Linked DNA regions of Homo sapiens. The protein of the gene in region 1 purifies or fractionates together with the protein of each later gene. This does not show direct contact. Each region holds a gene or a part of one and is shown in the gene's direction. Other genes may lie near its edges.

Region 1 (4,606 bases):
TCACTAGGCCCTCAGTGGGGCCATCCCAGTAAGCCTGGTTCAACACCCACGGGAACTAAGCCTGCTGTTGCAGATTCTCGGTCGTCTGCCTGTGTGCCGAGTAAGTCTTTCGGGGGCCAGATGGTCAGGGTAAGTCTGTGTGCTCAAGTTAGAGATGTGGATTTGGGAGTGATCAGGGCTCAATAGAAATGCATCATTGAAAGACAGGCCTTTCAATGTCAGTTGGTGCAAGATGGGCCTACAGAGGTCCATTGTGCAGTGGGCTTTCAGTCCCGTGTTTCAGACACCCTCCAGGTTTGGGATGGGAGGGGCAGAGTTGTTAGGGGAAGTGACAACACCCCTGAGCCTCCCTCCAAACCCATATTTAGGATTGTCTAAGGCCAAATGTTGAAATAAGCAATGGTTTCCCCAAGGCCCCCTGCTTCCTCTTTCTGCACCCTTCTATTCTTTCAGTGCCCTTCCTCCAAGCACCCAGGAAAACAAGGGTCCAAAAACAAAAAACTCCGAGACAGAGGGCAGCAAAATAGGAGCCAAATGCAGCCTACCACCTGCTTTTTACAGCCCATGAGCTATCAATGGTTTTTACATTTTTAATTGGTTGGGAAAAAATAATATTTTGTGACACATTAAATTCAAATTTCAGTGTCCATAAATAAAGTTTTATTGGAACACAGCCACAACCATTTGTTTACAGATTGTCCATGGCTGCTTTCAGCCGAGGTGAGGAGGTATAGGCTTGCAAAGTCTAAAATATTGACTCTCTGGCCCTTTAAGGAAAAGCTTGCCGATGCCCTGCTCTAGGATGTGTCTTGTGCCCAAGAGATCTGCTTTCCAAGGAAAGGGCAAACCAGTCAAATCCAGGCAGATGTGCAGAGGAGACACTGGACAGGGAAGCCTTCCTGATCCTTCTGGTGACACTGGAGGAGCAGAGGGGAGATAACTCTCTAATCCTGCAGATGGAACTGCTTCTGTCCACACTGAGTTAGGGGGCATGGAAACAGTGGGTTCAGGCCTATGACTCATTCTAACAGTATAAATAGCAGGATTCAGAAGGTGATTAATCGTCTCCAGTGAGCCCACCCTACCAGCTTCCCTGCCAGGCTGGTGGCAGCGATTTTACCTGAGGCCTTTATTGTTCCCAGGGTCCTGCAGGCTGCCCTGGGGTCGGCCCTGAGCAGTATATTCATTGCTCACCTTTCTCCTGTCTTTGCAGAGTTTGCCTTCTGCCAGGTGGATGCCTCCATCGCTCTGGCCCTGGCCCTGGCCGTCCTGTGTGATCTGCTCCAGCAGTGGGACCAGTTGGCCCCTGGACTGCCCATCCTGCTGGGATGGCTGTTGGGAGAGAGTGATGACCTCGTGGCCTGTGTGGAGAGCATGCATCAGGTGATCCCGGGGTGTCAGGGGAGTAGGAGGCAGGGTTGGAGTGTCCTAAACCCGCTAGATGCAGCACCTACAGCCTCAGCTGGGCTTTTGCATGCTTAGACACAGAGCAGGAACCACTAGGAAAGTCACCCACTGGGTGCTGCCGAGGACACGGGGACACTCTTAGGCTGACTTCTGGGGTGCTGATGGTCAGCCTCCAGCTTAGCCAGGGGAGAGAACTCGGAAAGAAGCCCCTGGCCGGGCACAGCGGCTCATGCTTGTAATCCCAGCACTTTGGGAGGCCAAGGCAGGCGGATCATGAGGTCAGGAGATCGAGACCATCCTGGCTAACACGGTGAAACCCCGTCTCTACTAAAAATACAAAAAATTAGCCGGGCATGGTGGTGGGTGCCTGTAGTCCCAGCTACTCGGGAGGCTGAGGCAGGAGAATGGCGTGAACCTGGGAGGCGGAGGTTGCAGTGAGCCGAGATTGCACCACTGCACTCCAGCCTGGGCAACAGAGCAAGACTCCATCTCAAAAAAAAAAGAAAAGAAAAGAAAAGAAAAAAAGAAGCCCCTGGATGCGGAGAGTTTTATTATGGAGACTGCTTGTTAGTCAGTATTGGAGTTAGCCTGGGGCTTCCCAAAGTTAGGTCTGAGGGTGAAGCATTTTCAGAGAATTAGGATCTTTGCTGGGAACTTCCTGCTTGAAGAAAACTATTATTAGCCCCCTCCAGGGTGGGTGCAGTCACAGATAGGGAAACTGAGGACAAAGACAAGCAGCAAAAGCATCCTGAGAACTGAAATTGATCGCCACCAGCATCTGACTCAGCTGGCCTTCTTGGCATCCCCAGCAGGCCAAGGGTTCAAAACGCATTGTCCCTCTTTATGAGAAATTTGGAGACATGGTAAGTGTCTGACAAAAGGACCTTGAGAATCACAGTGTTATAGAAACAGGACACAGCCTAGTGTCCTGTGTTTGGAGATTCCTTCCTCTCTGGCCTGCTGCAGAGATGACCTTTCCTCCCTCCTCTCCAATTTCCAGCTGCACCTTAAACTCTAGAGCCCACTCCCTTGTTGAAGTCCCCTTTTCAGCATCCATCCCCCAAAGTATCTTGACTTTGAACCACAAACACATCTTTATCCAAGGTCATGTTAAGTCTGGGGAAAAAATTCCTCTCTGGTGGAGAAATACAGTGAGTGAAAATAGAAGGTGACCTTCAAGGCTGCAAGTGGTGTGTGTACATGGATGTTGACAGGCAAGAGTGCACCCTCTGTCAGGTGGGGGAAGGGAAACCCCTCTTGCATCTGGCAGGGTACTGCTTGGTCTGGACTGGGGCTTGTCACCATTCCCTGTAAGACTGACTTTCGGCTTTTTCATCTGATTTAGGTGGAAGAAGACTACCTGTTTGAAAAAGCAGAAGTCAACTTTTGGGCCGAGACCCTGATCTTTGTGAAATACCTCTGCAAGCACCTCTTCTGTCTCCTCTCAAAGTCCGGCTGGCGTCCCCCAAGCCCTGAGATGCTCTGTCACCTTCAAAGGATGGTGTCAGAGCAGTGCCACCTCCTGTCTCAGTTCTTCAGAGAGCTTCCACCAGCTGCTGAGTTTGTGAAGACAGTGGAGTTCACAAGACTACGCATTCAAGAGGAAAGGACTTTGGCTTGCTTGAGGCTGCTGGCCTTTTTGGAAGGAAAGGAAGGGGAAGACACCCTAGTTCTCAGTGTTTGGGACTCTTATGCAGAATCGAGGCAGTTAACTCTTCCAAGAACAGAAGCGGCATGTTGAAGAAAATCTGGGGGATTGGGATGGGGGTATGTGTGGATTTTTCCTCCACTAAATCTGCAGGAAACATGTTGAACATAAATTCAAAAATTTTATCCCATTCATGCCTCCCCTACTTCTGTGAGTCCAGTCGTCTGTCACTCCTTACAGAGAAACTTTTCTTCAGTTCACTCATTCAGGGCAGCCTATTTTATTGCTGCTACTGTAGGAAGTGAGGCGACTCCGTTGCAGATTTACTCTGTCCCCAGGTGCAGGCCACCTGCAGGCCTGAATGAGCCTTTTTCATCCCCCAGGGCCTCTAATGCCCTGCCATAGCCGCCCTGCATTCTCTGTGAAATGACTACAGAGAGTTGGATTTTAGCACATACACATGATCCCTCCCCTCTCCCCTTTTCTGGCTTTATGTAGGGGCTGGATTAGTTGGCAAACAGCCCATTTGGTCAGATTTGTGAATTTTGTTCCATTTTAGCAAAGCAGAAATATGTTCCAAATGTTGGATCCTGGGAGAATTCAGGATCAACTTTGCACAAATAATTTATTTTTATTGTCTGCATGTGTTAAGTCCTGCAGTGACCTACACATTCCATCCTAATTATTCAAAGAGCCATTGAGCATTTCCCCTACCCCCCAAAAAGTATGCTAATGCTAGGAAACCTGATTTTGCCACCCAGTGAAAGTATATCCGTCCTCTTAGCTGTGAGGAGGAACCTGGGGAAAGGAGAGTCAGAGAAAATGACTTATTCTGTGCCTACATTGTTTACCTATCGCTTGGTGGCAGTAACAAGTGTCTCACTTAAAATGCCATTAAACACATTTATCAGCTGGGCGCGGTGTTTCACACCTGTAATCCCAGCATGTTGGGAGGCTGAGGCGGGTGGATCACAAGGTCAGGAGTTCAAGACCAGCCTGGTCAAGATGGTGAAACCCCCGTCTCTACAAAAAATGCAAAAAAAATTAGCTGGGCGTGGTGGTGGGCGCCTGTAATCCCAGCCACTCGGGAGGCTGAGGCAGAGAATTGCTTGAACCCGGGAAGCGGAGGTTGCAGTGAGCCGAGATCGCACCACTGCACTCCAGCCTGGGCGACAGAGTGAGACTCGTCTCAAACACTCAAACACACACACACACACACACTCTCACTCTCTCTCTCTCTCTCTCACATCCTTTGCAGTGATTTTAATCTAGAAACCTTAATGATTTTCTTCCTTTTCAAGCCCAGCCCAGCCCTCTTCCTCACACATCCAGCAGGTGGCGCTCTTGCAAACGTTTTGCTGCTGGTCCAGTTTTTCACTGGCTCACCATTTTTCATTTATAATTTCAGAATAAGTGTTACCCACTAATAGTTATCTTGAGAATCATAGCTTTGGAAGGGTAGTAGCTTCATCCGCATTCATTTTTCATCCTACTGATCTGAAAAAAACATTTCATAGTATGTAAATTTGCTCCAGATTTTAGGGTCTGTAA
Region 2 (5,262 bases), on another chromosome or scaffold:
TCTTCCTGGACTTGTTTTGGAGAGAATGTCACTTTTTGGTGTTAAGCGTGGTGCCTAACACATAGTGGATGCATAGTAAATGTTTGTTGAAAGAATGAATTACTTTCCCAAATTCCAAACATCCAGACATCATTTTCACATACATATTTAAAATTGATTTTGATATAACTAAACAGGTCAGATTTTGCTTAAATCAAAATATTTTCAATGACTTCTTAGGAATTCTTAGGTTAAATTCTAATTCAGGAAAACGAGTTTTAATCAAACTTCTGCAAAAAATTTATGCATATCATTTTAGGTATTTGAAATATGTATTAGTCACCTCTTAGAAAGATATGTTAATGTGGGTTTCATTTTCTGGAGGTATATGCTATGCATTTTAAAGGAGTAATATATTTGAACTTTGAGTTTGCACTCAAATCCAAAAAAGTGAGTGATCATTTGATTATATTATTTCCTAAGTCAAAATGAATCTATTATATATGAAGTTGCTGGAAATTAAATCACTTCAAATCTATCAGATTAAATATGAATATTTGGGGGATATTTTGCTGTGGTACATTAGGAGGATAATAATCCTTCTATAAGCAAAATGTTTGCCACCTTGTAGGCATTAAATGAATGAACAATCACCACCAAAATACAAGACATTCTCTCTCTCTCTCTCTCTCTCTCTCTATATATATATATATATACATATATATATACATATATATACACATATATATATACATATATATATACACATATATATATACACATATATATATATACACACATATATATATATACACATATATATATACACATATATATATATACACATATATATATATATATACACACACATATATATATATATATATATATATATATATATATATATATACACATATATATATTCTTTTGAGACGAAGTTAAGTCTTGTTGCCCAGGCTGGAGTGCAATGGCACGATCTCGGCCCACCGCAACTTCCGCCTTCCGGGTTCAAGTGATTCTACTGCCTCAGCCTCCTGAGTAGCTGGGATTACAGGCATGCACCACCACGCCCGGCTAATTTTGTATTTTTGGTAGAGACAGGGTTTCTCCATGTTGGTCAGGCTGGTCTTGAACTCCCAACCTCAGGCGACCCGCCCACCTCAGCCTCCCAAAGTGTTGGGATTACAGGCGTGAGCCACTGCGCCCAGCCTAAAAATATTTTTAAATGTTGATTAAGTGTGTACATCTTGGATTATTTTTCTTTAATAATAAGCACTTTTTTAATTATTATTATACTTTAAGTTTTAGGATACATGTGCACAACGTGCAGGTAAGCACTGGTTTTTAAAAGAGATTACACATATTTCAACCACATATGCATTTTTGTTTTGTTTTTAAATTTGGTCAAGTCAGAGAGGGACATTGCGTTCTTGGGTTTTGTTTAAATCAGATACTAATCTTTACTTTGCTATTTATTCACAGTCCTATTGATGTAGAGATTTTTCTGACTTATTCAATTTTTAAATAATTTCTCAACTTAGAATGACTTAATCCAAAGGAAGGGAACTTTTTTCCCTGACACTCAGAGAATCACCTCCACTTTAGGACTAAGTTTGCACTGCCCATTGTCTACATGTGGCTATTGAAATTTAAATCACTTCAGATTAATGAAAATTATAAAGTCAGTTCCTCAGTTTCACTAGCCACATTTCAAGTGTTTGATAATTCTATTTGGGCTACTGAACTGGATGGCGCAGAGATAGAACATTTCCATCATCACAGGAAGTTCTGTTGGACAGCACTGTAAGGGTGAGCTCAGAGGTTTTAAGTAATGTGCACTAATTGAATGATGTGACATTTTAAAAAGGCTCATCTGGAAATATATAACTTTTAGCTCTGAAGCATATCATCACTATATCATGGTTGGACAATGTCTGAAAAACATCTTTTCTTCAGAATTTAATTGGTTATGGTGCTAAGAATTGGGAATCTGGGCAATAAAATGGCCTGGAGGTTTTGCTTTGCCAACTGTTACTTATTTACATGACAATGTGTAGTACCTCAAAAAATATTGTCTCACTTTAAAATTTGAAATTACCATCCTAATTCCAAGGTGATATTATTAAACTTTTGCAGATTTCTAATTAGTTACACATTTATATATCTTCTATATTTAAAATGTTAGAAATGTTTGAATCAGATTTATATTTTCCAAATCCTTGATTTTCATTCACCTCTATTCTCATCTGTGCTATAAATGGCTTCCTGCTGCACTGAGGGATGGCAGAGATTGTGTCTGTCATGTTCATTCTTGTTTCCCCAGTGTTCAGCACTGTTTGTGGCACAAAATGGGTGCTCAATTGATATTTGTTGCTAGGCTCCACAGCCTCTTCCATGGCTTGACTTGTGTGAGTACTGTGTGTACTCTGCCATCAAACACTTTTTCCAAGAGTGGTCTTCAAAGGGGGTTTGTGGGGTTTTGTTTATTGTTTTGCCTTATCTGTTCATAAATTCTCACCCTTAACCAATCTCGTAACAGATACTGGGTCCCAAACTAGAGAACAAAAATTATGGCCAAATAATATCTCTAAAATCTCTGTTTTTAGGGAATAAGTCTGGGAACTTTAAGGGCTACCAAAACCCCAGTTTTATCCTTTTTATTTTGGACACTTTAAAGACATTTGGAAGTCATCATTTAAGCACGGCCAGAGATGTGGCTAACTTCCAGGAGAAATGAAATGGGCTCTTTGAGGGTGGGAGGGAACCATCTTTCTCCAGTGAAGTTTTTGTTGGAAAGATTAGCTGCTTTCTGAAAGCCAATTTCCTTTTTGGAGGAGGCATTATGGAAACCAGGAAAGCATGGGGAGGAGAATATTGGGAAGAGGGAAACTGTATGGAGTTAAAAAGTGCTGCATTTTTGTTTGCATTCAGGCACTTTTCTTAATTTATCAGTGCATTGGTTGCCATGTAAACAGCCAGCTTCTGGCAGGAAAGCAGCTGGACCAGGTGACCTGGCTGTGACAGAGAACACAGATATTGAATCCATGAAACCAAGAGTAATCAGTACAACGATTTTTTTTCTTTTACTTTTTAAAAGTGTTTGTCAATCCTTTAAGTTCTTTTTGTCTGACTGCTGTCATTAAGTAAGAAAAATATGAAATAAATAAGTCTTTGGGTATGCAAAATTGGGAAGATGGACAGGAATTAGTCCCTCTATGCAATTTCCTCTGAATCTTTCATAATTTCTGTATCCTCATCCCTTCACCCTCAACCCTCCAACACCCTCTGTTACCCTGCAGGCAACTAGGACAGCATAGAGAGCGTCTCTTGAACTTGACTTTCTCTTCCAGTGCTTGCCTGCCAATCCCGTGACCCATCCTGGAGAACTTTTATAGTCTTCGACAATGCAATGCATAGCAACCAGTTAATAAGATAAGACAGTGACTGTATAGTGCTCCCCAAAGTGCCATCACCTAAAATAGCCCTTTGGAAAGTGCTCATATAGAACTGAGAATTTTAGTGTAGTGGCAGGCTGGATTTGGGTAGGGTGCCCTTCGGTGGGCCTCCAAATCCTATGGGGAGCTTAATTACTTCATCTTTCTGTAAGGCCAACAGTTCTCAAAATTTGTGGTCTCAGGACAATTTTACACTCTTAAAAACTGAGGGAGATTTCTGGTCTGGACATGTAGTACAGACCTGTTTTTCATTGTTCCTCCCTGCTAAGCACAAGTATAAACCCTGGAAATAATGCAAGAGACAACCAGGGTAGAACTCTGGAAGGTTGTAAGGAGAAGGCAAACTGGTTTGAGACCCAGGGAAAAACAAAGAGCAAGGGTATCCTATGTTTCCCACCCAGCAGAAGAAAGAAACCTAGTCCTGGCCATTCCTGATACCCAACTGAACAACAGAGGGCAGCCCAGGTAAGCTTACTCCTCCCTCAGAGTCCCTCTGACAACATCAGGTAGGCCCAACACCACAGGTAAGGGGGGATCTTCAGAAACCCCACCAACAACAGTGGACAAAAGAAGCATTTGCCTTCTCCCCAGGCCTGAGATGTCCCACTTTCACCTAGAGATATCGAGGTGGGAGGGTAGAACAGACACGAGGCATAAAGTGATGGCAAGCGGCCCAGTCTGGGAAGGCTCTGTCTCAGTGGGTGTATGACTGTCCTCTCCTACCCATAGAGACACCAACAGTGCAGGGCGCCAGTAGAAGTGTCCCACCATACCTACCCCAACTGAGAGGCACCTGGAAGCCTGACCTAGGGAAACCTTTCTGCTCCTTCAGGCGATATGATCTGGGACAAATGTCAGCCTCAGTGATATCCGATAAACCAAACAGAGCAAAACAATACTGAAAATTAAACTGCTGTTAGAACAACAGACCACAAAAGTAAGCCAACACCTGCTTGCATGTGAAGCATAAATAATGTGACTGACTGCAAAAATAAAAAATGTAAATATGAGTTTCCTAACATAGTAGACAAAATGTTCAATCAAAAATCATCTGTCATACCAAGAATCAAGTAAATCACAACTTGACTGAGAAAAGGCAACTACTGCCAACATTAAGATGAGTTCGATGTTGGAATTATCTGACAAGGATTTCAAAGTAGCCATCATAAAAATGCCTCAACAATCAATTAACATTATCTTAAAACAAATAAAGAAAAAAAAGGAAACTTGCAGAAAAGAAAAAGAAGTTATAAAAATATAAGAAAGAAGGAAATTCTGTCATTTGCTACAGCATGAATGAACCTGGGGGACATTATGCTAAGTGAAGCAAGCCAGACACAGAAAGACAAACACCACATAATCTCACTTATATGTGAGATCTAAAAGAGTTGAACTCAGAATTAGAGTAGAATGGTTACCAGGGACTGTGGCTTGGAGGGAGTGGGAAATGGGGAGAAGTTGACCAAAGGGTACAAAGTTCCAGTTAGACAAGAGGAATAAGTTTTTAAGACCTATTTTGCAGCATGCTCACCATAGTTGATAATAATGTATGTGCATTTCAAAACTGCTAAAAGCATAAGATTTTAGTCTACACATTGGGTACAGTGTACACTGTTCGGGTAATGGGGGCACCAAAATCTCAGAAATCACCACTAATGAACTTATCCACGTAACCAAACATCACCTGTTCCCCAAAAAAGTATTCAAAAAAATAATAGATTTTAAATGTTCCTGCTATGAAAAAAACAAAACGAAACAAAAGATAGGTAGGCCAGATGTGGTGGCTCATGCCTGTAATCCCGCCACTTTGGGAGGCCAAGGAAGGTGG
Region 3 (5,088 bases), on another chromosome or scaffold:
CATGTGGGTAGTCACCACTCCAAGCTTTCTCTCCAAAACCGCTGACTCAGGCACACTTTTTAGGTTAAAGTAAATCAGGACTTATGAAGTGAAATGTCAGTTTTCTAATGGAGGAACCAGATCCAAAATATAAAACCCTCTTTAAGATAATTTTTAAGATGAGCAGGTGCCAGCTGACTCCTCCTTCTTGATAATGCTTAGGTGCTTTGGAAACTCTTCCTGGATGAGAAAGAGATTCTTGTCCCTCTTCATCTGCTGCAAAGGACAAAGCCCCAGAAGAATAATATGCCAAAGTCGGCCTTAACATCTATCATCCCTATAACCTCATCTCCCTGGTGCTCTGACCTTCACTGGGATGGTATAAAGCAGAGGCTCTAGAGTATCCCTGGAAATGAGGAGCAGCGTACACTAACCAGTTTGGTTTAGAGTAATTCTCTCCTATTTGTAATTTTTATGAAAAACAATTTAAATATGGCCTTGGACTCATGATATTTTTTATGTCACAATAAAGTGGAAATTTAAAGTTACAAATCCCCAAAAAGGTCCTCCATCAACTCCTCATAGGATGTATCCATTTTTAGCTCTGATTATTGCAGTTAACTTTCCAAAGTGCTGGGATTACAGGTGTGAGCCACCACGCCAGCATATTTACTGTGAAAGTTTAAAATCTGATTTGAAAGCTGCTTATTATAAGCAATATAATTTTTTCTTTAACGGCCCCAGAATGTTTAATGTTACATAATATGAATATATATTTTCAAATGTAAAAAAAAGCCTTTTTATATATAAACATGTATAAAAGAATAAATATAAATAAGAAATTAATTGGGGTGGCAAAGTACATTTAAAATTTTGTGATGTTTTTGTCAAAAACGATTTGAACAAATTTATAGGAAAAAAACAAACAACCCCATCAAAAAGTGGGCGAAGGATATGAACAGCCACTTCTCAAAAGAAAACATTTATGCAACCAACAAACATATGAAAAAAAGCTCATCATCACTGTCATTAGAGAAATGCAAATCAAAACCACAATGAGATACCATTTCACGCCAGTTAGAATGGTGATCATTAAAAAGCCATCATTCTGAGCAAACTATCGCAAGGACAGAAAACCAGACACCACATGTTCTCACTCATAGGTGGGAATTGAACAATGAGAACACCTGGACACAGGGCAGGGAACACCACACACCCGGGCCTGTCGTGGGGTCGGGGGACGGGGGAGTGATAGCATTAGGAGAAATACCTAATGTAAATGACGAGTTAAAGGATGCAGCAAACCAACACGGCACATGTATACATATGTAACAAACCTGCATGTTGTGCACCTGTACCCTAGAACTTAAAGTATAATAATAATAATAATAATAATAATAATAATAATAATAAGGCAGGAAGCAACAGATGCTGGAAAGGATGTGAAGAAATAGGAATGCTTTTACACTGTTGGTGGGAGTGTAAATTAGATCAACCATTGTGGAAGACAGTATGGCGATTCCTCAAGGTTCCAGAACCAGAAATAACATTTGACTCAGCAATCCTATTACTGGGTATATACCCAAAGGATTTTAAATTATTCTACTCTAAAGACACATGGACATGTATGTTTATTGCAGCACTATTCACAATAGCAAAGACTTGGAACCAACCCAAATGCCCATCAGTGATAGACTGGATAAAGAAAATGTGGCACATATACATCATGGAATACTATGCAGCCATAAAAAAGGATGAGTTCATGTCCTTTGCAGGGACATGGATGAGTTGGAAACCATATTCTCAACAAACTAACACAGGAACAGAAAACCAAACACCACATGCTCTCACTCACGAGTGGGAGTTGAACAATGAGAACACATGGGCACAGGGCCGGGAACATGACACACCAGGGCCTGTTGGGGGGTGGAGGGCTAGGGGAGGGATGGCATTAGGAGAAGTACCTAATGTAGATGATTGGTTGTTGGGTGCAGCAAACCACCATGGCACATGTATACCTATGTAGCAAACCTGCAAGTTCTGCACATGTATCCCAGAACTTAAAGTATAATTTAAAAAAAAACAGTTTGAAAACTTCCCTGAAGTAAAAAAAGTATCCTTTGAGGAACAATGTAACGATGAGCTCAAGTTCCACAGGAAAGAGAAAATTAAAATTTATAAAGAATTTATAAATATCAAACTATTTTCATGTTTTCCAGGAAAAGTGTGGCTTTCTCATTCATTAACCAATAGCATAATATTTTCCAGGAACCTTCACTCAGAAGAAATGCTGTGGCCCTTCCCTTTACCAACAGAAAATGGAACACAAGAGACCACATAGCTGAACAAATTATAGCCTCCTTACAAGTGAGAAACCTTCGAGGCTACATAGTTTTCAGCCAAAGGAAAATAACCAACAGCTTCTCCACAGTGTAGACTGAAACAAGGGAAACATGAACATCACAAACTGTACCACAGAGGCCAGCATGGCTATAAGACCCAAGACCATCACTGAGAAGATGCTCATTTGCATGACTCTGGTGGTCATCACCACCCTCACCACGTTGCTGAACTTGGCTGTGATCATGGCTATTGGCACCACCAAGAAGCTCCACCAGCCTGCCAACTACCTAATCTGTTCTCTGGCCGTGACGGACCTCCTGGTGGCAGTGCTCGTCATGCCCCTGAGCATCATCTACATTGTCATGGATCGCTGGAAGCTTGGGTACTTCCTCTGTGAGGTGTGGCTGAGTGTGGACATGACCTGCTGCACCTGCTCCATCCTCCACCTCTGTGTCATTGCCCTGGACAGGTACTGGGCCATCACCAATGCTATTGAATACGCCAGGAAGAGGACGGCCAAGAGGGCCGCGCTGATGATCCTTACCGTCTGGACCATCTCCATTTTCATCTCCATGCCCCCTCTGTTCTGGAGAAGCCACCGCCGCCTAAGCCCTCCCCCTAGTCAGTGCACCATCCAGCACGACCATGTTATCTACACCATTTACTCCACGCTGGGTGCGTTTTATATCCCCTTGACTTTGATACTGATTCTCTATTACCGGATTTACCACGCGGCCAAGAGCCTTTACCAGAAAAGGGGATCAAGTCGGCACTTAAGCAACAGAAGCACAGATAGCCAGAATTCTTTTGCAAGTTGTAAACTTACACAGACTTTCTGTGTGTCTGACTTCTCCACCTCAGACCCTACCACAGAGTTTGAAAAGTTCCATGCCTCCATCAGGATCCCCCCCTTCGACAATGATCTAGATCACCCAGGAGAACGTCAGCAGATCTCTAGCACCAGGGAACGGAAGGCAGCACGCATCCTGGGGCTGATTCTGGGTGCATTCATTTTATCCTGGCTGCCATTTTTCATCAAAGAGTTGATTGTGGGTCTGAGCATCTACACCGTGTCCTCGGAAGTGGCCGACTTTCTGACGTGGCTCGGTTATGTGAATTCTCTGATCAACCCTCTGCTCTATACGAGTTTTAATGAAGACTTTAAGCTGGCTTTTAAAAAGCTCATTAGATGCCGAGAGCATACTTAGACTGTAAAAAGCTAAAAGGCACGACTTTTTCCAGAGCCTCATGAGTGGATGGGGGTAAGGGGTGCAACTTATTAATTCTTGAACATACTTGGTTCAGGAGAGTTTGTAAGTATGTGTGGTCTTGTTTCCTTGTTTGTTTGTTTGTTTTGTTCTGTTTTGTTTGAGGATTGTTATTTGGCGTGCTGTTTTCTACCTCTGGTCTTATCTGTGATACATAATTTCAAATAAACATTATCATACAAAAACAGAAATTTTGTAGAAGTAATAATAAGATGAAATACTAAATACCTTTTATGGGTTTTTTTTTTTTAGCCATTTCAGTTACCCTGCAATTAAAGAATGCCAAAAATATCTTTATTTGCAGAATTTCTTATTACTTATAAATTAAATACCTGATAATGCCCTCCATGGCATTAAATCTGAGATTATGGCTCTATCTGCGTACATATTCCAGTGGGAATTGCATGACTACATAAAGAATTAAAAGAAAGTGATGTGCTGTCATCTACTGCTTGCAGACCTGAGCTAAAGTCGTTTGCTGTAGCACTGTGACTACATAGCCTATTCATTTCAGGTAAAAATAGTACAGCTGGCTTGTCCTTTTTAGTTCATGATTAAATAAACTTCCTCTTTTTCTAAAATGGAAATACCTGGAATAAATGCACTGGCACTTTTCTATGTCTTTTACTATGAATATAAAACATAAAGCAAATAACAAGTCATCTAAATCTACTTTGGTCAGTGTGTTGCAATATTACCTGACAGACACATTGGGCCTCCTCCAATTCTAAAATCTATCCCAGCTAAGCCACCCATATACACTTTCACTGTAGCAGGACAAAGGTAGGAGTACATGTCAAATTTGGGAAACTTTTTAAGAAGCTTAATGAGGTGCAGTGATCAAATGACAGAATATATTATCTGAAGAACTTCATTGGAGACTATTACTCATTAAATTACCAGTTGCAGCCGGGCGTGGTGGCTCACGCCTGTAATCCCAGCACTTCGGGAGGCCAAGGCAGGTGCATCACCTGAGGTCAGGAGTTCGAGACCAAGCTGGCCAACATGGTGAAGCCCCATTTCTGCTAAAAGGGCAAAAATTAGCCAGGCATGGTGGCACGTGCCTGTAATCCCAGCTACTCAGGAGGCTGAGGCAGGAAAATGACTTGAACCTGGGAGGCAGAGGTTGCACTGAGAAGAGATCATGCCACTGCACTCCAGCCTAGGCAACAGAATGAGACCCTGTCTCAAAAAAAAAAAAAAAATTACCAGTTGTGCTCTTGGGGAAAAAAAGTAAAAGTTGAAAAACTGTGTTTACACCAAAGGCCACTCATCAGGATATGAGAATGAAATTGCGTCTCCCAGAATCCCTGTGGCTTCTGTGCCAGACTGTACCCTGGGGCCAGGAGGCTGCAGGTGGGACCTGAAGCCCTGGGTGTGGCCTGAGAAGGAGTGATTGCTCTAGTCACATGGAGGAGTACACCATTACAAAATCAAGAGTGATGGTAGGAGGACTGAAAGTTTGTACATTCTTGCATACTCCTAAGTAGGTGACCGT
Region 4 (5,262 bases), on another chromosome or scaffold:
AGAAATAAAGTGCACAATAAATGTAATGTGCTAGAATCATACCCAAACCATCCCCTACCACCCCTGGTCCATGAAAAAATTGTCTTCCATGAAACTGGTCCCGTCCCTGGTGCCAAAAAGGTTGTGGAGTATTGCTGTAGTAAATGGGATGTAGATCACTCTCATCACCATTTGTATTTCTAATGAGTTCAGTTACTTTATTATAGTGGCTAATGGTTTTTCTTCCAATTTTTTTTTTTTTTTGAGATGGAGTCTTGCTCTATTGCCCAGGCTGGAGTGCAGTGGTGTAATCTTGGCTCACTGCAACCTCCGCCTCCTGGGTCCAAGCGATTCTCCTGCCTCAGCCTCCTGAGTAGCTGGGATTACAGGCATGCACCACCACGCCCAGCTAATTTTTGTATTTTTAGTAGAGACAGGATTTCACCATGTTGGTCAGGCTGGTCTCGAACTCCTGACCTCGTGGTCCACCCATCTTGGCCTCCCAAAGTGCTGGGATTGCAGGTGTGAGCCACCGCGCCTGGCCTAATTTTTTTTTACATGGCACTTCCCATTCCTTTCCCCCCAAAAGGCCCTGTGGGGAATGTGGGGTGGTTAGTTATAATAGTCACAAACATTTCTGCTGTGATTGACCCTGTGGAAGAGCTCTTGCTCCAGCAGGGTGCTGAACTTTAGATAAATCCTCACTGTACTATTATTTAACAGATTTGTAAAAAATATACAACTTATGTACCCTAAAAGTCACTCACTATAAGTATACAATTCTATAAATTTTAGTAGATTTAAAACATTTTAAAATCCAGTTTCAGGCCAGGCATGGTGGCTCACATCTATAATCCCAGCACTTTGGAAGTCCGAGGCGGGTGGATCACTTGAGGTCAGGAGTTCGAGACCAGCCTGTCCAACGTGGTGAAACCCCATCTCTACTAAAAATATAAAAATTAGCCAGGTGTGGTGGCACGCACCTGTAGTCCCAGCTACTTGGGAGGCTACGGCATGAGAATCACTTGATCCTGGAGGCAGAGGTTGCAGTGAGCTGAGATCGTGCCACTGCACTCCAGTGAGACTCTGTCTCAAAAAAAAAAAAATAAAATCCAGTTTCAGAACATTCCCACTACCCCAAAAAGATCCCTCATGCCCATTTACAGTTAATTCCCATTTCCAGCCCTACTCGGTCACTAGTCTACTTTCTGTCTCTGCATACATGGACATTTCATGTATATGGAATCATATAATATATAGTCTTCTGTGACTGGCTTCTTTCATTTAGCACAATGTTTTTGATGTTTATGCAAGTTGTAGCATGTATCAGTACTTCGTTTCTTTTTATTGCTGAATAGTATTTCACTATATGAATATGCATTTATCAGTTGATGGACGTTTGGATTATGTCTGGGTTTTTACTATTATGAATAATACTGTTGTGAATATCTGCACATATGTCTTTGTATGGATATATATGTTTTCCATTCTCTTGGGTTAATTCCTTAGAATGGTAAAATTATGTTTAACTTTTTAAGAGACTGCCAGATTGTTTCCCAAAGTGGTTGTACCACTTTACATTCCCACCACAGCGTATGAGGGCTGTTTCTCCATATCCTTGCTAATACTTGGTATTGTCTATTTATTTTATTGTAGTCCTTCTAGTGGGTGTGTCACACTGTACTTTTTCTCAGTACATGAATTAAGGTCACAAGAAAAAATCACCGGCCTAGAAAATACTTTTGTATATCTAAATTGAGCTAAAGAGTAGCTGAATTTAGGACATTATGTTCAGCTGGGAAAAGAAACAAACTGCTGTGCTAGCAGTGGTGACAGGTGATTAGCAGTAGGTGAAGTTGGAGTCTTGAAGACTTGCAAAAAAATCCCAAAGATCTTTCCTCTTTTTTTCTTAAATAATACTTTGGTGAAGAGTTGAGTTTATTTCTTATATTGCTATCTGGTTTGTATAGAAATCCTATAGGCTTAGCAGATATGTCAGTCAGTTTTACTATTATCATACAAAGTTCTGATTTATGGGCTTGAACAAAGATGTAACTTAATTTTCAATTTCCTTTAGGTTACCATTATAATTTATCTCTCCATTTTGGGCCTTCTACTTCTGTACATGGTATATCTTACTCTGGTTGAGCCCATACTGAAGAGGCGCCTCTTTGGACATGCACAGTTGATACAGAGTGATGATGATATTGGGGTAAGTTCCCAGCCTGCCCTAGCTGCTCATGGCCAGTCCCTGTCATCATTCGATGTGAAGTGCAAGTGAAAAATAGTCATATATAGATGTTCACGTGCTGAAGCAGATCCTCAACTAGAGAAGCTAAAAACAGCTCTGATTTCAGTATATACCTCTTTATGAAGAAATTGCTTGATGAAGCCATAAATGTGATGATTTAAACGATGATCTTTGGTGAGCATGCTATACAGGGCCTTGCTTTCAGTACCAAAGGCACAATTTTATTGCCATTCCCTGTTTACATTGAGAAAAGTATCAGAGATGGTTTTCTCTCCAAGCTCTCCTGCCTGAAACACCTTCTCTGTCAATATCACCAAATATTTTAGAAGGCAGAGAGGTTTTCATCAAGGGAAGTGTGAAGATCATGATGTTCTTTTCTTAATGAAGTACAACTTGATAACCTGCTGATGTTTTATATTTCCTTTTTTTCTACTGCTTAAAAAAAAATCTGTGGGCCAGGTGTGGGGGCATACACCTGTAATCCCAGCACTTTGGGAGGCCAAGGTGGGAGGATCACTTGAGCCCAGGAGTTCAAGACCACCCTGGTCAACATGGTGAGACCCTGTCTCTACAAAAAATAAAAGCATTAGCCGGGTGTGGTGGTGCATGCCTGTGGTCCCAACTATTCAGGAGGCTGAGACAGGAGTGTCACTTGACCCCAGGAGTTTGAGGCTGCAGAACTGTGATCACACCATAGGACTCCAGCCTAAGCAACACAGCAAGAAGCCTGTTTAAAAAAAAAGAAAAAAAAAATCTGAGATCTTTAGAGAAAAATAAAACCATGACTACCATCACTCCAGATTCTCTTCCTGTCTTTAAATCTCTCACACACACACACACACACGTGTGTACATTATATATGTTTATATATATATATATATAGCGTGTGTGTGTGTGTGTGTGTGTGTGTGTGTATATAGTTGGCATAATCTGTATAAATTGCTTCATGGTCTCCTTTTTGTTTTAATATTCGTTTATTCAAAAATGTCCAGAAATTGACTTAGTCCACAAATCTGTTTTTCAGTGTAGCTTAGAGAATGTTTTTTTTGTTTTTTGAGACGGAGTCTCACTCTGTCGCCCATGCTGGAGTGCAGTGGCGTGACTTTGGCTCACTACAACCTCAGCCTCCCAAGTTCAAGCAATTCTCCTGCCTCAGCCTCCCAGGTAGCTGGTTCTACAGGCACCTGCCACCACGCCTGGCTAATTTTTTTTGTATTTTTAGTAGAGACGGAGTTTCACCATTTTGGCCAGGCTGCTCTTGAACTCCTGACCTCAAGTGATCAGCTCGCCTCGGCCTCCCAAAGTGCTGGGATTACAGGTGTGAGCCACTGCGCCTGGCTGGATATTTTTGTTTCATCATTACCCTGTATGAAATTGTTTCTGAATTTTCCTTTTTTTTTTTTTTTGAGACGCAGTCTCGCTCTGTTGCCCCGGCTGGACTGCAGTGGTGCGATCTCAGCGCACTGCAAGCTCCGCCTCCCGGGTTCACGCCATTCTCCTGCCTCAGCCTCCCAAGTAGCTGGAACTACAGGCGCCCGCCATCGCGCCCGGCTAATTTTTCGTATTTTTTTTTTCTAGTAGAGACGGGGTTTCACTGTGTTAGCCAGGATGGTCTCAATCTCCTGACCTCATGATCCCCCTGCCTCGGCCTCCCAAAGTGCTGGGATTACAGGCGTGAGCCACCGCACCCAGCTGAATTTTCCATTCTTTCATTATTATATATAATTATTTTTTTAGAAATTACTTTTTCTCGTGGATTATTATATTGGACTATGTTCCTTAAAATGGGTAAAATTCAGAATAGTTTTAAGGTTCAATTCAAAAGCCAAACCCAGAGTGAGCCCTTGCCAGCCAGTCAAAAGTCCTTTTACCCTGGAATGGCTCGTGCATCTATAGGCATAGACGTTGAAAGTCTTAAACGACATCCTTCCTTTACAGCGTTAAATATCTGTTCCTGATTTCAGAAATAGACAATATAATAACACAAAACATAAGAGAAATGGATGTAGAGATGAAAACATGTAGGGCAGGCATTTAATTGGTGGGATCACATGCTCAGTAATTGTTTTGTCCACCAGTGATTGATTCTGCTTGTGTATTGACTATTTGAGAACACTGTCTCTGTGAGGCCTGGCTGACTCTTGGATGTCTTTTAAACTGATTCTAGGCAGAGAGGTTTTCTGACCAGAGCTGTGAATTTATGGTAACAACTCTACAAAAATAAGTGAATTTTAATTTTTAAAACTGTTGCTTATCCAAGATGTGAGTTCTGCACTATTTATATACTTTAAAAATGTTTTTGTTGAACTATCAGTTTTCATTTTTTCTGTTTTTGTTCAGTGTAGAGCATTTTAAAGCAAATAAAAGTGAGTACAAATAGTTAAGCTCACTGCAAGTAGTCACAATATTTACTATATCATATATCCATGACACATCATCGTTATTACCAAAGCATTACAGTAAAACATGTTTTGTATTTATTGTAATTTTATCAGGTGTGAAAAGAACAAACATAAAAAGGGTAAATCTCTATTTGCATTCCCCCAGCATCTGTGACCATGAGCAGCTAGTTCAATCTCGTTCTGATGGATAGAGAGCAGACCCAAAGGATTAGCTGGTTTGTTTAGTCTTTTGAACTTGTTCCTTAAGAAGATTTTTCTCCCCTACCTTGAAGAATAGATAACAGCACTAGGCAACTGAGAGGTCCTCTGCCGATCAAGTACATCCTTCTTCCCAGTATTGCTTATGTCAAAACAAACCAATGGTGATAATATTTTCCTCCTCTGGTCCTTGACTTCAGGGGATGATATTTTATACACAAATTCACTGAAGCACCATATTCTTATAGTGTCATTTTAATCTACCTGACCAAAATCTGTTTTGAGACAATATAACACCAAGTCAGGGTTAGGCAGGCTAAGTTTTAGTCTTTATGCTAATTTGTTAAATGACCTTGGGTCAATTTATTGCCATAATGGAAAATCAAGCAATTCTATAACTTTAGCCTGCCTCCTTTTTTTTTTTCTTTTTTA

Evidence for each region. Proteins that work in one complex are often made in the same cells at the same time.
Region 2: the proteins of THADA (region 1) and VSIG1 purify together in Homo sapiens (co-immunoprecipitation; one large-scale study listed by IntAct). This does not show direct contact.
Region 3: the proteins of THADA (region 1) and HTR1E purify together in Homo sapiens (co-immunoprecipitation; one large-scale study listed by IntAct). This does not show direct contact.
Region 4: the proteins of THADA (region 1) and TMEM9B purify together in Homo sapiens (co-immunoprecipitation; one large-scale study listed by IntAct). This does not show direct contact.

The regions. Positions count from the first base shown.
Region 1 is NC_000002.12:43,229,490-43,234,095, reverse strand, and holds the end of THADA (tRNA (32-2'-O)-methyltransferase regulator THADA), read left to right. Parts: intron 1-1,213; coding exon 1,214-1,383; intron 1,384-2,752; coding exon 2,753-3,148; 3' UTR 3,149-3,245; downstream 3,246-4,606. UniProt on the Homo sapiens protein: Together with methyltransferase FTSJ1, methylates the 2'-O-ribose of nucleotides at position 32 of the anticodon loop of substrate tRNAs.
Region 2 is NC_000023.11:108,047,114-108,052,375, forward strand, and holds part of VSIG1 (V-set and immunoglobulin domain-containing protein 1 isoform 2 precursor), read left to right. Parts: intron 1-5,262.
Region 3 is NC_000006.12:87,012,903-87,017,990, forward strand, and holds the end of HTR1E (5-hydroxytryptamine receptor 1E), read left to right. Parts: intron 1-2,247; 5' UTR 2,248-2,432; coding exon 2,433-3,530; 3' UTR 3,531-3,777; downstream 3,778-5,088. UniProt on the Homo sapiens protein: G-protein coupled receptor for 5-hydroxytryptamine (serotonin). Also functions as a receptor for various alkaloids and psychoactive substances.
Region 4 is NC_000011.10:8,950,132-8,955,393, reverse strand, and holds part of TMEM9B (transmembrane protein 9B isoform a precursor), read left to right. Parts: intron 1-2,056; coding exon 2,057-2,191; intron 2,192-5,262. UniProt on the Homo sapiens protein: Enhances production of pro-inflammatory cytokines induced by TNF, IL1B, and TLR ligands. Has a role in TNF activation of both the NF-kappaB and MAPK pathways.